Homo sapiens: one gene and its partner. The protein of the gene in region 1 purifies or fractionates together with the protein of each later gene. This does not show direct contact. Each region holds a gene or a part of one and is shown in the gene's direction. Other genes may lie near its edges.

The links. Proteins that work in one complex are often made in the same cells at the same time.
Region 2: the proteins of ASB10 (region 1) and THAP12 purify together in Homo sapiens (affinity purification with mass spectrometry; 2 studies listed by BioGRID and IntAct, with this or other methods). This does not show direct contact.

Annotation. Positions count from the first base shown.
Region 1 is NC_000007.14:151,177,239-151,184,260, reverse strand, and holds part of ASB10 (ankyrin repeat and SOCS box protein 10), read left to right. Parts: intron 1-2,802; coding exon 2,803-3,322; intron 3,323-7,022. UniProt on the Homo sapiens protein: May be a substrate-recognition component of a SCF-like ECS (Elongin-Cullin-SOCS-box protein) E3 ubiquitin-protein ligase complex which mediates the ubiquitination and subsequent proteasomal degradation of target proteins.
Region 2 is NC_000011.10:76,378,115-76,385,940, reverse strand, and holds the start of THAP12 (52 kDa repressor of the inhibitor of the protein kinase), read left to right. Parts: upstream 1-4,808; 5' UTR 4,809-5,104; coding exon 5,105-5,193; intron 5,194-7,826. Other genes in the region: protein GVQW3, read right to left, coding at 3,731-4,112. UniProt on the Homo sapiens protein: Upstream regulator of interferon-induced serine/threonine protein kinase R (PKR). May block the PKR-inhibitory function of DNAJC3, resulting in restoration of kinase activity and suppression of cell growth.

The DNA of each region.
Region 1 (7,022 bases):
TTGTATTTTTTAGTAGAGACGGGGTTTCACCGTGTTAGCCAGGATGGTCTCGATCTCCTGACCTTGTGATCCACCCACCTCGGCCTCCCAAAGTGCTGGGATTACAGGTGTGAGCCACCACGCCCGGCCGAATTTCCTTCCTTTCTAAGGCTGAATAACACTCCTTTATATGTGTATAGCACATTTTTATTGAATGTTTATTCATTCACCCGTTGAGGGACACTTGGGTTGCTTCCACATTTTGGCTATTGGGAGTAATCCTCCTGTGGACATGTGGGTACAAATATCTTTGAAGCAGGTTAAATTAATTATATTTTATTTAACACAACATATCCAAAGTGTTATCATGTTGACATGTAATCAATATAAAATTGAGGCCGGGCGCAGTGGCTCACGCCTGTAATCCCAGCACTTTGGGAGGCCGAGCCGGGTGGATCACCTGAGGTCAGGAGTTGGAGACCAGCCTAGCCAACATGGTGAAACTCTGTCTCTACTAAAAATACAAAAATTAGCTGGACATGGTGGCGGGCACCTGTAATCCCAGCTACTCGGGAGGCTGAGGCAGGAGAATCCCTTCAACCCCGGAGGTGGAGGTGGTAGTGAGCCAAGATTGTGCCACTGCACTCCAGCCTGGGCGAAAGAGGGAAACTCCGTCTCAAAAAAACAAACAAGCAAACAGACAAAAATTAGCCAGGCATGGTGGTGCACACCTGTAATCTCAGCTACTCAGGAGGCTGAGGTAGGAGGATCATTTGAGCCTGTGAGGCGGAGGTTGCAGTGAGTGGAGATCACGCCACTGTATTCCAGCCTGGGTGACAGAGAGAGACCTTATCTCAAAAGAAAAAAAAAGAGAGAGAGATAGGGTCTCTCTCAGTCACCTAGTCTGGATGTCCAGTGGTACGTTCATAGCTCACTGCAGCCTCAAACTACTTGGCTCAAACAATCCTCTCACCTCAGCCTACAGAGTAGATGGGACTACTACAGGCCCATGCCACCATTCCCAGCTAATTTTTTGTGGAGATGGGTCTCACTTTGTTGCCCAGGATAGTCTTGAACTCCTGGGCTAAAGTGATTCTCCACTGCACCTAGCCAGCTCTGTTTCTGAAGAAGAAGAAGAAAAAAAGGCAAGCATATAACACACCGCATCTCAGTTAGGATTAGCCACATTTCAAGAACTCGATAGCCACAGGTGGCTAGTGGCTACCACTGGATAGTGAGGTTCCACATAATCCCACATTTTTAGTTCTGACCATGTTCCCACCAGCCTCCCTGAGATCACACCCAGTGATAATCCTTCCTTCCTTTGTGAGTAAACAAATGTATTTTAAAATTATTATGGAGACTTTTAAAGATATAGAAAGTCAGACAGGATAATGAAATGAGCTCCCACAATCCATCACCCTCTATACCTCCCACTCCCCCTGCCAAGTGTCGTCATTTTGAGCCCTTACGATGACAGGTTTTTGGGGGTCGTCTCACGTGCTGCTCACAACCACCTCGGAAGGTGGAGCTGTTATAATTATCCCCATTCTACACACGAGGGAACAGGAGCTCAAAGAGGCCAAGTCCCGTTAGCCCTGAAGTGAGGCACACACGTTGCTGTGACTCCCTGTGCTTCTTGCCATCTTGGAGTAAATCCAGTTGGCCAATTTCAGTCTTTTTTATTTTTTATTTTTCTATTTTGAGAAGGAGTCTCACTCTGTCACCCAAGCTGGAGTGTAGTGGCATGATCTCGGCTCACTGCAGTCTCCACCTCCCAGGTTCAAGCGATTCTCCTGCCTCAGCCTCCCAAGTAGCTGGGATTACAGGGGCCCACCACTACACCTGGCTAATTTTTGTATCTTTAGTAGAGACGGGGGTTCACCGTGTTTGCCAGGCTGGTCTCAAACTCCTGACCTCAGGTGATCCACCTGCCTTGGACTCCCAAAGTGCTGGGATTATAGGCATGAGCCACCATGCCCAGCCAATCAGTCTTGTTCTTTATCCCACTGCCCCATTTCCATGTGTGCCCACTGTCAGGCCCCACGCCCCCTTCCTCCTCCAGTCCCAGCATGCAGATCCCCCAACAGTCCTGTTGCCCCTGAACCCAAATAGCAGCCCTACCCCTACTAGCCATGTCAACTTGCATGAGATCCTCAAACCTCAGTTTCCTCCTCTGTGGCATGAGTGCCTTAAGAGAGCCTACCAAGGGAATGTAGTGAGGATGAAATTAGCTACAACACGTAAAACCCTTAGCAGGCGCCTGTTCTAACCACTCATGTGATAACTGCTGGTGACGTTTATTCCCACGGATGATTTAGTGGATTATCCCAACAAAAAGTATTTGGATTTTAAAGAAGGACACTGTTGGCCAGGCACAGTGGCTCATGCCTATAATCCAGCACTTTGGGAGGCCGAGGCAGGTGGATCACTTGAGGTCAGGAGTTTGAGACCAGCCTGGCAAACATGGTGAAACCCCATCTCTACTAAATACACAAAAAACTAGCCGGGCGTGGTGGTGGGAGCCTGTAATCCCAGCTACTCTGGAGGCTGAGGCAGGAGAATCGCTTGAACCCGGGAGGTGGAGGTTGCAGTGAGCTGAGATTGTACCACTGCACTTCCGCCTGGGTGGTAGAACAAGACTCAGTCTCAAAAAAAAAAAAAAAAGAAGGGCACTGTTGATCTTGCAGAATGGTGCCAGGATGACCAGTGATGGGCAGGATGGAGGGTGGGTGGGGGGAGACAGAACCAAGAGCCACCCAAGTGTGTTCCTGCCAGGGGTCCGTGCCCGCTTTCCTCCCCACCACCGTCTCCCCCCAATAGGTGTGCGGAGCTGCTCCTCAGGTTTGGAGCGAGAGTGGATGGTCGGTCCGAGGAAGAAGAGGAGACCCCTTTGCATGTGGCCGCCCGGCTTGGCCATGTGGAGCTGGCAGATCTGCTTCTAAGACGGGGGGCATGTCCTGATGCCCGCAATGCCGAAGGCTGGACCCCACTGCTGGCTGCCTGTGACGTCCGCTGCCAGTCCATCACCGATGCCGAGGCCACCACCGCCCGCTGCCTGCAGCTGTGCAGCTTGCTGCTTTCAGCTGGAGCAGACGCTGATGCTGCGGACCAGGACAAGCAGCGACCCCTGCACCTGGCCTGCCGCCGTGGCCATGCAGCTGTCGTGGAGCTGCTCCTGTCCTGTGGTGTCAGCGCCAACACCATGGACTATGGGGGACACACGCCCCTGCACTGTGCTCTGCAGGGCCCAGCTGCAGCCCTGGCCCAGAGCCCCGAGCACGTGGTTCGGGCTCTGCTCAACCATGGCGCCGTCCGTGTCTGGCCAGGGGCCCTCCCCAAGGTATGGGGGCTGCAGGCAGCAGGAGGGCCACCATGGTGAGGGGACAGGGAGACCTGGGCCTGTGCTCCGGTTTGCTTTGGAATGTGGCCTGTGCACATAGATTGGTTCCTTCTGTCTGTCTTTCATTCAGCATGTAAGCAAAGCCCAAATAGGGGTCAAGGTGAAGACACAGATCAGTGGGAAATGTGTGTGTGTGCATGTGTGTGTGCATGTGTATACATGGTGTGCGTGTGTATACATGTGTTCATGCATGTATGTGCATGTATATACTGTGCATGTGTGATAAAGGCGGACTGGGGGCAGTGGGGCCAGATTAGATAAAGGATCCAAAAAGACAGAAGAAGTCAGGGCTGATGTGGGTGGTGGGCGTTGTTTAAGGGTCTTCATCAGCACAGCAAACTGATGAAAATAGCACTTGAGGAAGCTCCCACTAGCAGTGGGATCAGTTCAGTGACAGATGCAGGAGAGGCTGTCCAAGGGAAGAGGGTGAGCCTGTTTCAGGAGGCTCAAGGTCCCCTGAATGTCTGTAAATGGACATGGTCCCACTTTCTGAGAATCTAATAGGACCCACAGCCCCCAGAACAGCTGCCACTGTCCTGGCACCTGTGAACATGCCTTTCACTGTCAATTTCAATTTATATCCTACTTTATCTTAATTTCCCCTAAGTAGGTTCAACTTGAAGACCTGTGCTACTGATGCCCTGTGAGGGGGCCTTGCCCCATGCTGTGTCGTGTCTGGAGGGGCATAGATAATGTCATGGAGGGCGCTGGGTCTGGGATGGGGACATCCGTTCTCAGAGGAGATGGCTCAGAACCGAAACCACCCTCTGAGTAGGCAGTTCCCCTCTGGCTCAGCCCAGAGTGTTGTCCCACCCAGCCTTGCCTGTCCTGGGACCACCCCTGCTATCCCAGCCTCTCCCCTTTGCTCACAAACCTAGAAGCATCTGTCTGGATTCCTAAGCAAGACCAAATAATTAAACAGCCCAAGAGTTCGGCAGATTGGTCTCCCCTTTGGGAAAATACAAGAAAATCAACAATTAACACTAATTAATCTCCTATTAACACTAGATAATTAGGAGACAAGCAATTCCCTGTAATCTGACGGCAGCTCTGACAGCTAATGATTTCCCTGGCAGGCAGGGGCGGGAGGAGGGCCCGGCGCAGCGAAAGGGTTTCCTGGGTCCCCACAGCCCTGCTCCACCTCTCAGCCTGTCTCTGGGACCAAAGGGGCTGGCAGAGCAAAGTACCCCATTTGTCCCTTTCCATGATCTGCAGCCCTGCCAGCTGAGGGGTTTCTGTCCTCCCTGCACAGAAGCCTCCACCGCCCATCTGTGATGAAATGCCAGCCCCAGCTGGTTCTCTAGGAGCCACCACTTTAGACTTGGTGCTCAGGGGACCTGGATCCAGGATGTGACTTTGATGCTTGTTCGTATGGGTGTAGGCAAGTCACTGCATGTGATACAGCCTCTCCCTAACAGGATGGAAAGCTGTAGGAGAGCACTGGGGAACAGTCGGAGCAAGCACAGCCTTGACTACACACCAGGCACTGCTCTAAGCTGTATTTCCTGTTACAGGAGTTCCTCAGTCCTCCCAGCAACTTCTGAGTTCAGTGGTGACTAGGAGTGTAGGCTCTGGAGCCAGACACACTACCTGTGTGGCCTTCGGCAAGTCGCTGAATCTCCCTAGGCCTCAGTTTTGTCATCTGTAACATAGGGATATGATACTATGCCTTCTTCATAGGGTTACTGTGAGAAGAGTTAATACACATCAAGCCTAGTGCTTAACACTTGTTAGCTAGTGTTGTTCTTGTTATGTAATGTATGAGAAAGCACTTGGTAAGCTGCTTGGCATCATCCCAATGAGGGTATCATTGGACATGGGAGTGAAGCAGGTTGATGTAGCTGCATGGGCTTCCTGGAGGAGGCAGGACTGGGATGGGCAGTTTTGAAGGGAAGGAGGAGGAAGAGGCAGGCATTCCAGACACAGCGAGCTACTTGAGCCCAGTGCAGAGGTGGGGATCAACATGGGCCAGGAAGGACAGAGACGGGCCTGAGGGGCAGGTGGAGAGGAGAGTTGGAGAGAACCAGCCTGCTCTTCCCTAGCTTGGAGGAGGAGTGAGGAAAAGAGGCCTCCCGGGACAGACTGATGAGCACTGCTCAGATGCAGGGCTAGAAGCAGAGGCCCCAGGTGTGTAAAATGCTTTCTCCAGGGACCCCTGGAAGGCCAGGCCTTCTGCTCCCACTGCTCATTGGTACTCTCGTCTGACAGACAGAAGGGTCTCCTCTCCTTGCAGACAGAGTCTGTTAAACCCCCACCGCTAGATGCAATTGTGTTTGGCCACATGTGGGTTGTGTGTGAGATGCTGCCTGAAAGACAATACTTAGCTGTTTTCAGATCTCAAAAGGCTCTGTGGCCATCGCCTGCATAGATGCAGCGAGAGTGGAGTGCAGTGGAGGAGGCACAAATCTGCTTTAGGTACTGAGTTCAGGCACAAGCGGGTGTCTTAGTGCCAGTGTCTGTCAGGCCACTTTTCTGACCACGTGGACGGTCTGTCCACAGGCTGCTCCACTGCGTGGCTTGCCCGCTTGCTGCACTGGACCACCACCTCAGAGACCTTTCTTGGCCACTCCGTCTAGGACAGTGCCCTCCCCAACCATGCTCAGTCCCCTGACCCTACTTTTTTTTTTCTCTTTTGAGACAGGGTCTCATTCTGTCGCCCACACGTGCCGTGGCACGATCCCGGCTCACTGCAACCTCTGCCTCCCAGGCTCAAGAGATTCTCTTGCCTTAGCCTCCCAAATAGCTGGGATTAAAGGTGCATGCCACTACCGCCCGGCTAATTTTTGTATTTTTAGTAGAGACAGGGTTTCACCATGTTGGCCAGGCTGGTCTCAAACTGCTGACCTCAAGTGATCCACCCACCTCGGCCTCCCAAAGCGCTGGGATTACAGGCATGAGCCGCCACGCCCGGCTCCTTCTTATTTTTCATTGCAGCAGCAGATCTGTGAGTGATGACTTCTGTGTTTATTATGTTTTCCCTCTGAAATAGAAGCTCTTGGATGACGAGGACTTTATTTTCCCCACTGCTGGATTCGAAGTGCTTGGCACATAGTAGGCCCTCAATAAATAGTTGCTGAATGAACCAATGAAAGCATATATCTGGCTCCAACTAGGTTCCACCCCTGCTCCTACCAAATCCTCTCCTGCTCCTGCAGGCAGTCCATCAGCCTCAGGTTGCCTTGTCCCTTCTCCCTGAATACCCTCCAGGCTCTGGGGTTCCCTTGCCTCCAGAGCCCAGTCCTCCCTCTGTGAGTCCCCCACCCAGCCCCACCCCACTCCCTGGCCCCCTCTTGTAGCTGTCTCTACCCTCACTTGGCATTGGATGGATTCTGTGATCTTTTTATCTGCTCAGGAGCTCCAGCCACAGGTCAGGGACCCCTTCCAGCCAGCAGAAAACCCAGCCCAGAACCTTGTAGAGGCAGAGAGGAGAGCAGGATGGTGGTGTGGTTAAGGGCAAGGGGTCACGCTTCCAGGCCTGGACTGTGGGAACCACAACTTGGGCAAGTTAATTAACTTCTCTGTACCTCAGTTTCCCTTGGCTGTAATGAAGGAAATGGGATAATAACATGGGATATTAACAGTCCATCCCTTGCAGGGACAACAGTGAAGAGTTCATACATGTCAAGTGCTAGAAATCATC
Region 2 (7,826 bases), on another chromosome or scaffold:
AGGAGAATGGGCTTTGGATGTTATAACTCTGAAGAAGTTTCATGACTCTTGCTACTAGAGGTAACCATATTGCCTCCTTGAGAAACTGGTGACACTGGGTGCCTCTGGGGAGTGCAACTGAGGGTGGCTAAGGTGCCCATGTCCCTTAGAAAAAACAAAATCAACACATAATTCCCCCATGTCACCCCACCCTGCTTCTTTAAGATAGGAAGGCAACCTGGGGCCAGGGCTGGAGCAGACAATTTCCTTACTCAGCAGCTGAAGCGGGGAGCTGAAAGAAGGATCCAAAAAATCAGAGAAGAGTTGTAAGTTAAGTGGAAAACCATGACCCAAAGGTCAATACAAGGATCAGCACACCAAAGTGACCAAAAGCAGCTACTGAAGATGTGACCCAGGACCAGAAAACAAAGCAACAAGGAAAGAGAGGAGTAAGAGCAAACTGTGAAGAATAAACTGAGAGGTGTCTGAAGATAGTCAAGGACAAGAGCCTGGGGTGTGACGGACACATAGCTGGATGTGTGAGACTACGGGACCAGGAGCTCAAGAGGCCTAGGCAGCAAGGTGCAGGCCAGGGCAAAACGTGCATCAGCAATAAAATAGATTTGGTGGGTGGACACATTAGGAGTACTCATATAAGAACTTTCCTATTTGGAGATGCCCAGATCATGCTCTACCCTTGGGTTTAGAAATTCTGAGCAGCCAAATGTGAATGGTTTGCTCTGGATAAGTCCTTTTCATTATAGCCAATTGGAACCATTTGAATTCACACTCCTAATTACCTGCTTCTGGTTGCTGTGTCTAAACCATGTCTGGACCAACATAGCTTCTGGTACTCTACACTCCACCATGGGTCTTGGTCCAGCATCACTGGCAGGGACATACCAGCCCTGTTCATAGGACTGGAATAAAATCCAGAAGTAAGTTGTCTCAGGACCTCTGTTTAATAACAGGTTAGAAACAACTCCTGTAGGTATGGTTGTGGGATCCTGGCCTGGGACCAGGAGCATATAAATCTGCAACAATTACCACTGGGTAGGCCTTAGCAAGGATTACTATGAGGTTCAGCAACAAAGCTGCAAGAACTAGTGGTGGGGACTTTGTTCCTAAAGTGCAGTGTCCCTGGTGCCAAGTGCTTGTGGGCAACCTAGAGCCGCATCTGATGTAGGAAGACTTCATTGTCCTGAAATGGAATGTCTAGAAACTGTTAAGGAGCTGGAGGTCTATAAGCTGTTGTTTGGTTTAAGAGTTTTCTTACACAGTATCTTCTCTTTGTGGGACAACGTCTAGCTTTCAAGGTGTCTCAAAACTAACAGGTGTTGACCCGGCGTGGTGGCTCACGCCTGTAATCCCAGCACTTTGGGACGCCGAGGTGGGTGGATCACCTGAGGTCAGAAGTTCAAGACCAGCCTGGCCAACATGGTGAAACCCCGCCTCTACTAAAAATACAAAAAATAGCCGGGTGTAGCAGCATGCACCTGTAATCCCAGCTACTCAGGAGGCTGAGTCAGGAGAAACACTTGAACCTGGGAGGCGGAGGTTGTAGTGAGCTGAGATCGTGCCACTGCACTCCAGCCTGGGCAGCAGAGCAAGACTCCATCTCAAAAAACAAAACAAAACAAAAACAGGTGTTAATGAGGAACTTGTAATTTTTGGAGGTGAGTAGAGAAAGTGAAAGAACAGCACTAAAAGTAACTGTGATGAATGAGTGTTGTGCCTCTACTATCAAGCAATATTGTTTAAGAGGAGCTGTTATATCTAAAAATCCTTGAGTAAAACAAAGACTGGCCAATTCTGTGAAATGCTATTACCAAACCCCTGCCCCCTGAATGTTTCCAGTCTATGTGGTATTACTTGGAACCCACTTGGGAAAAGTTCCATTCCATAAATCCTGGCAGAGGCAGGAAGAGAAGAGACAGAGTTTGAACTTGCAGAAACTGCTTGTCGGGGTCCAAATGGAAAATCAGATATCAAATTGGTTGTTACAAACCTATTCACAGACTCAGGGGAAGCAATTTAACAACAAGTGGCATAGAGTTGGAGGCTTAGGAGAGAAAGCAAATTATCCCAAATTGTTCATCTGCTGCAACACCATTATCTTCCTCTTTAAACTTTGTTATTTTAGCCAATAGTGTCATCATTTTCTAATTCCTTTTTTTTTTTTTTGGGACAGAGTCTAGCTCTGTCGCCAGGTTGGAGTACAGTGGCGCAATCTCCACTCACTGCAACCTCTGCCTTCCGGGTTCAACAGATTCTCCTGCCTCAGCCTCCTGAGTAGTTGGGACTACAGGTGTGCACCACCACGCCCAGCTAATTTTTGTATTTTTAGTAGAGACGGGGTTTCACCATGTTGGCCAGGATGGTCTCGATCTCTTGACCTTGTGATCCACCCACCTCAGTCTCCCAAAGTGCTGGGATTACAGGCGTGATTCACCACACCTGGCCAGTGTCATTTTCTACTGATGCAGGTTGGAAGCCTCATGCTGTTCCACCTGCCCCGGAAGCTTTCCCTAATTTCACAGCCCTGTCTCACCCATCCTCATGGATCCAGTTCAAGAACCATCTCATCCATGAAGCCCATCAGCCCTTGGAGATCTTGTTCATAACCTCCACATTGTCAATGCCCAGCAGTGTCCTAAAAACAGCAAGTTCTCAAAACTATAGGCATTAGTTACTAAAAACAGGCTGCTGTGTGGGAATCCGCACATAGGCAGCAGGCTCCCTTAATTCAGGGACTAGAGAGCCACCTGGTCTTCCTCCCCACACAACACAGCCTTGCCTGGGTCCCCGGGTTTATATTTTCTAGCACCAGATCCTCCTCTTCCAACAGGGGTGATACCCAAATGAGTGGAGGTCCAAAGCATAGGACTAGAATGAAACAAACCCAGCTCTTCTGTGAGGTGTAGGCCTGTGAGAAGATCAGTATTGGTGGCCAACCCCTGATTCCTAAGGGTGCCTACTGAGTCATCTGGGCCAGATCAGCCCCTAGGCCCAGCACTGTTCAGTAATACCAGCATGCTACTACCTTCTGTACCATACCTCAGGCCCTGACTGCAAAGCAGGCTGAAACTGTAAGCCTTCTTTTGGGGTCCTCCCAGAAAAGCATGCTTCCCTGGGCACAGAGATACAGATTCCAGGAGATCCTGTTCCTCTCTTCTCACTGGCATGATCCTCTGAGGCAGAAGGTTGAGAACAAAGGAACAGGACAGCCACAACAAGCTAAGGTCTGGGCAGAGAAGAAATCCAAACTTGTTGAGCAAAAGAAATCAAGAACAAGCAAATACCAGAAGGGAACAGCCAAAAGTTTTTCAAAGTTATGGAGAACAGCAAGGAAAATGGTCCAAGAGTCCAGCAAAGAGTAATGAGGAGGGCCATGGCACATAGGGAGGAGTGGTGAAGACTGAAAAATACGTGAGCAGCCAAAGAAGGTGCCTAACAGTGAGGCAGCATCCTAGTTCTGGTTCAGCTAACTCACATTCCTCTCACCATGGGGTGAACCAATTCTCAGCTACCCTGGGGGGAAGGCTTGTTGAAGATGACGCCTGCAGAAGCTGACTGGCAGAGTAGTGGACTCTGGGATGGGATACCGGCAGGGGCATTTCCCCACCAGCTTCACCCTGGAGATAACTCCATGTTTCAGAACCTGTTACCTTTTTCCTCAAACATGAGCTATTTTTCCTAGTTTCCTTTGAAAGATCGGACCGAAAGTCAAGTTTTCGTGGTTTAGGCTCACCCTTCAAAACACCCGAAATAACTTTTGCAGAAATCTTCCTCATGTTCAAGTTTTCTTTCAAAATGAGCCTAACAGTTTCTTTGTCTAAATTTAACTCTTCAGCCATCATCCTCACGGTTAACTGCCTGTTTGAACAAACCAAGTCCTTGACCTTCTGGATATTGTCATCTGTTCGGTGGGTGACTGGACGCCCACTTCGGGCATCATCTCGAACATCTTCCCGTCCTTCTTTAAACCTTTTGTGCCAGTCAAAAACTCTGGCCCTTGACATGACTTCATCCCCATAAGCTTCTTTTAAAAGATGGTGGGTCTCACTTGCAGACTTGTTCAATTTCACGCAAAATTTGATACTAATCCTTTGTTCTAAATAGCGGTCACTCATTCTGGCACTGAACAACACAGGAACGTTTAACAGGCCACGACTGTAAGGGAAAGACGGACAGATCAATCTTTATAGGGCTGCAGGTGTAATCATATCGCTCTTCTTGCTCTTCTAGAAGCCTCGCCGGGAAAGAGTAATTGCTTTTATGAATTTTTGTCCCTCAGCTTCCAGTCGAGGCTGGGGAGATCCGTTCTGGGAAGCCAACAGTCGCTGCAAAGCTGGGAAAAATTAAATCGCCTACAACCACGTCTGCATCAAACCAGTGCACGCACATCTGCCGAGAGTTTGCCAGTCACCAAGGTCGCTCCGATTCCGCGGCCCTTAAGGAGTATATGGCGAATTCTGCAAGAAAGGCCTAAGTGGTGGCAAATTAAGCAAGCAAGAAGAGATGCATCGGTGATGTAACGTGCAAGCTCGCCCTAGATCTGCAGAAACCCGCGCACGCCAAACCTACCGGAGCAGCCCAGGAACCGCCTGCTCTAGCGTCCCGGGAGACAGGCGCGCATGCGCAATTCTCTCTCCCCGCGGATTAGACTGTGCGCAGTCGCACTGCGGCGGCGCGCGCCAGGTCCCGCCTCCGCCTCGCCACACCCCGGCAGGCGCGCTTCCTTGCGCGTGCCCGCCTGCTGAGAAGGCGGAAAGGAGGGGCGGGGGAGGAAGGCTGAGGGAAGAGAGGGCACCCCCGGGCGTCAGGGTGCATTGTGGGAAGGAGGCGGCAGCGTCTCGGGCGGGCGGGAGGTGCACCAGCGGCGGCGGCGGCGGTAAATCCTCCCGGCCGCTCACAGCACTGTGGAGCCGCGTCCCCAGCCCGGCCTCGGACCGCGGCACCCCTCCTGGCCCTCGCGGCTTCTAGCCCGCCCGCCCCTCCCCCGCGCGTCGGCCCTGCCGAGCCGGCCGGCCGGCCTGGCTCCCCTCCCCGGCCCCGACGGGCGGGCGGACTGCCCTGAGGAGGCGGGGAGGGGAGGGCTGGGCCGGCCGGCGGGCGGGCGACGATGCCGAACTTCTGCGCTGCCCCCAACTGCACGCGGAAGAGCACGCAGTCCGACTTGGCCTTCTTCAGGTTCCCGCGGGACCCTGCCAGGTAAGCGGCGGGCGCAGAGCGGGCGGCCCGGGCCCACCTTCGCGGTGAGCGCTGCCAGCCGCCGGCCCCTGGCGGGCTCCCGGGCTGGCTGAGAGGGGCGCAGGAGGCGGGCGCAGCGCACTGCCGTCGACCCCAGCGTTGGACCGAGATGGGGAGCCGGCCCCGAGCCGTGGGCGGGCGGGCGTCCGGGGACCTCGGAGCACGTGCGCTGGTGGGGGCTCTGCGCGGAGGACACCACCCCAAACGCGAGGGAGCTGGGGCGGCGCGCGGACGCGGGATGCTGTGGGTTCTCGCCGTGGCTCACTTGCTGTGTGACCTCGGGGGAGTCGCTTTCCTCTCTGGGCGTTAGTTTCCTTAGCTGTCAAAAGAGAGCAGGACTCTATGGTTGTGGCCACTGGGGCCTTTCCCTCTCCTTGCCACCACCCCCGGGACAGTGTTTCTGTTTTGAGTCCCGCTACCTTCTTTCATCTCATCGCAACTGCTTTCTCCTTCGGACTTGTCATTGCACGGTTCAGGATTCATTTTCTGGCTGTCACCGTTACTCATTTTCTCGCTTGGGTATTGTAGGGATAACAGAGGGTGTACGCGTGAGGGCGTGGAAATTGGTATTGGAACCTCTTCCTTCGGATAACCCCCACACACTGACATATTTAGGGAATGATAGCATAGGGACTGTGTTTGAAAGGCTGAGATGTTTCATAGGCCTGTCTTGTTGGTTCATTCATTTAAAATCAATGCCTACTATGTGCCGAGCGCAAATGTTAGGTGCTGGGAGTTCATGGGTGAATAAGGGTGTCACTGCTTGCAGAAAGCTCTCAGTCCAGTAAGGGAACAGGTGCAGCAACGGGCGACTATAATTTATGTTATTTATTAATTAGTTCAATTAATTATTGAAGGTCTACTTGTGTTGGCATTGTTGTGAGCAGTGGGGGTTACAGATGAACAAATCGAAGTCCTTGCTTTCATGAAGATTACATTCTAATGGGGGGGGAATAAACAAGTAAAATACGTAGTGTGTCGGATGATGATAAATACTGTGGAGAAAAATAAACAAAGGTTAGAGGGTAGGGGAATAAGTAGTATCAAGGGACGCACAATTGCTATTTTAAATACAGTGATTAGAGAAGGCCTCACTAAGAAGGTGAATTTGAGCAAAGACCAGGTGAAGGGGCCAGCCATGGAGATACCTTGGGCAGCAGCATTCCAAAGAAGGCAAAGACAGGGCAACCAGGAGTCCAGGGAGAGGGACTGGGAGAGAGGTGAGATGAGACCAGAAAGGTGTGTGTATGGTAGGGGCAAATTCTTTAGGTAGGACCTTGTAGGTCTTGGAAGGCACTATGGTTTTTATTATGAGTGAAATAGGAAGTCATTGAAGGGTTTAGAGCAGAGACTTAAATTTTAACAGGATCAGTGGCTGCTCATTAGATTGTGGGGAGGCAAAGGTGAAAGCCGGAAGACCAGTTAAAAGGCTGTTGTAATAATCCAGATTAATAGAGGAGGAGATGGTAAATTTGAGATATGGTTTGAAGGTGAAGCCAACATCATTTGCTAATGGTTTGGAGGTAGATTGTAAAAGAAAAAGAGAACTTAAGGACGACTTCAAGATTTTAAAAATCTATGTTGGCCAGGTTGGTCTTGAACTCCTGGCTTCAAGCAGTCCTCCTGTGTCGGTCTCCCAAAGTGCTAGAACAGGCTCTGAGCCACCGCGCCCAGCCGACTTCAAGATTTTTAACGTGAGCATTTGCTGAGATAGGGAAGACTGGGAAGAGCAGGTTTGGTAGAGGAATACTAGAAGTTTGGGTTTGAGAGACCTGATAGACATTCAAGAATAGATGTCTAGGCCGGGCATGGTGGCTCACACCTGTAATCCCAGCACTTTGGGAGGCCTAAGCAGGCGGATCACTTGAGGTCAGGAGTTCGAGACCAGCCTGGCCAACATAGGGAAACCCTGTCTCTATTAAAAAATACAAAAATTAGCTGAGCCCAGTGGTGCGTGCCTGTCCAGCTACTCAGGAGGCCAAGACGTGAGAATCGCTTGAACCCAGGAGGCAGAGGTTGCAGTGAGCCGAGATCGTGCCACTGCACTCCAGTCAGGGTGACAGAACAAGACTCCGTCTCAAGAAAGAAAGAATAGATGAAAAAAAAAAAAGAATAGATGTCTTTCTTCATACCATATACAGAAATGAACTCCAAATGGCCTATACTTTTATTGAGATCAAAGGCCTAAATATAAGAGCTATGTCATTAAACTTTTAGGAAAAAAATACAGATAAATCTTCATGACTTTAGATTTGGCAGCACATTCTTGTTTGTTTTTTGTTTTTTTTGAGAGTCTCACTCTGTTGCCCAGGCTGCAGTGCAGTGGCACAGTCTCAGCTCACTGCAACCTCTGCCACCGATGTTCACAAACTATTCTACTCACTCAGCCTCCCAGGTAGCTGGGATTGCAGGCATCCGCCACCATGCCTGGCTAATTTTTGTATTTTTTTTTAGTCAAGACGGGGTTTCGCCATGTTGGCCAGGCTGGTCTCGAACTCCTGATCTCAGGTGATCTGCCCGCCTTGGCCTCCCAAAGTGCTGGGATTACAGGTGTAAGCCACCGTGCTTGGCTGGCACCACATTCTTAGATATGA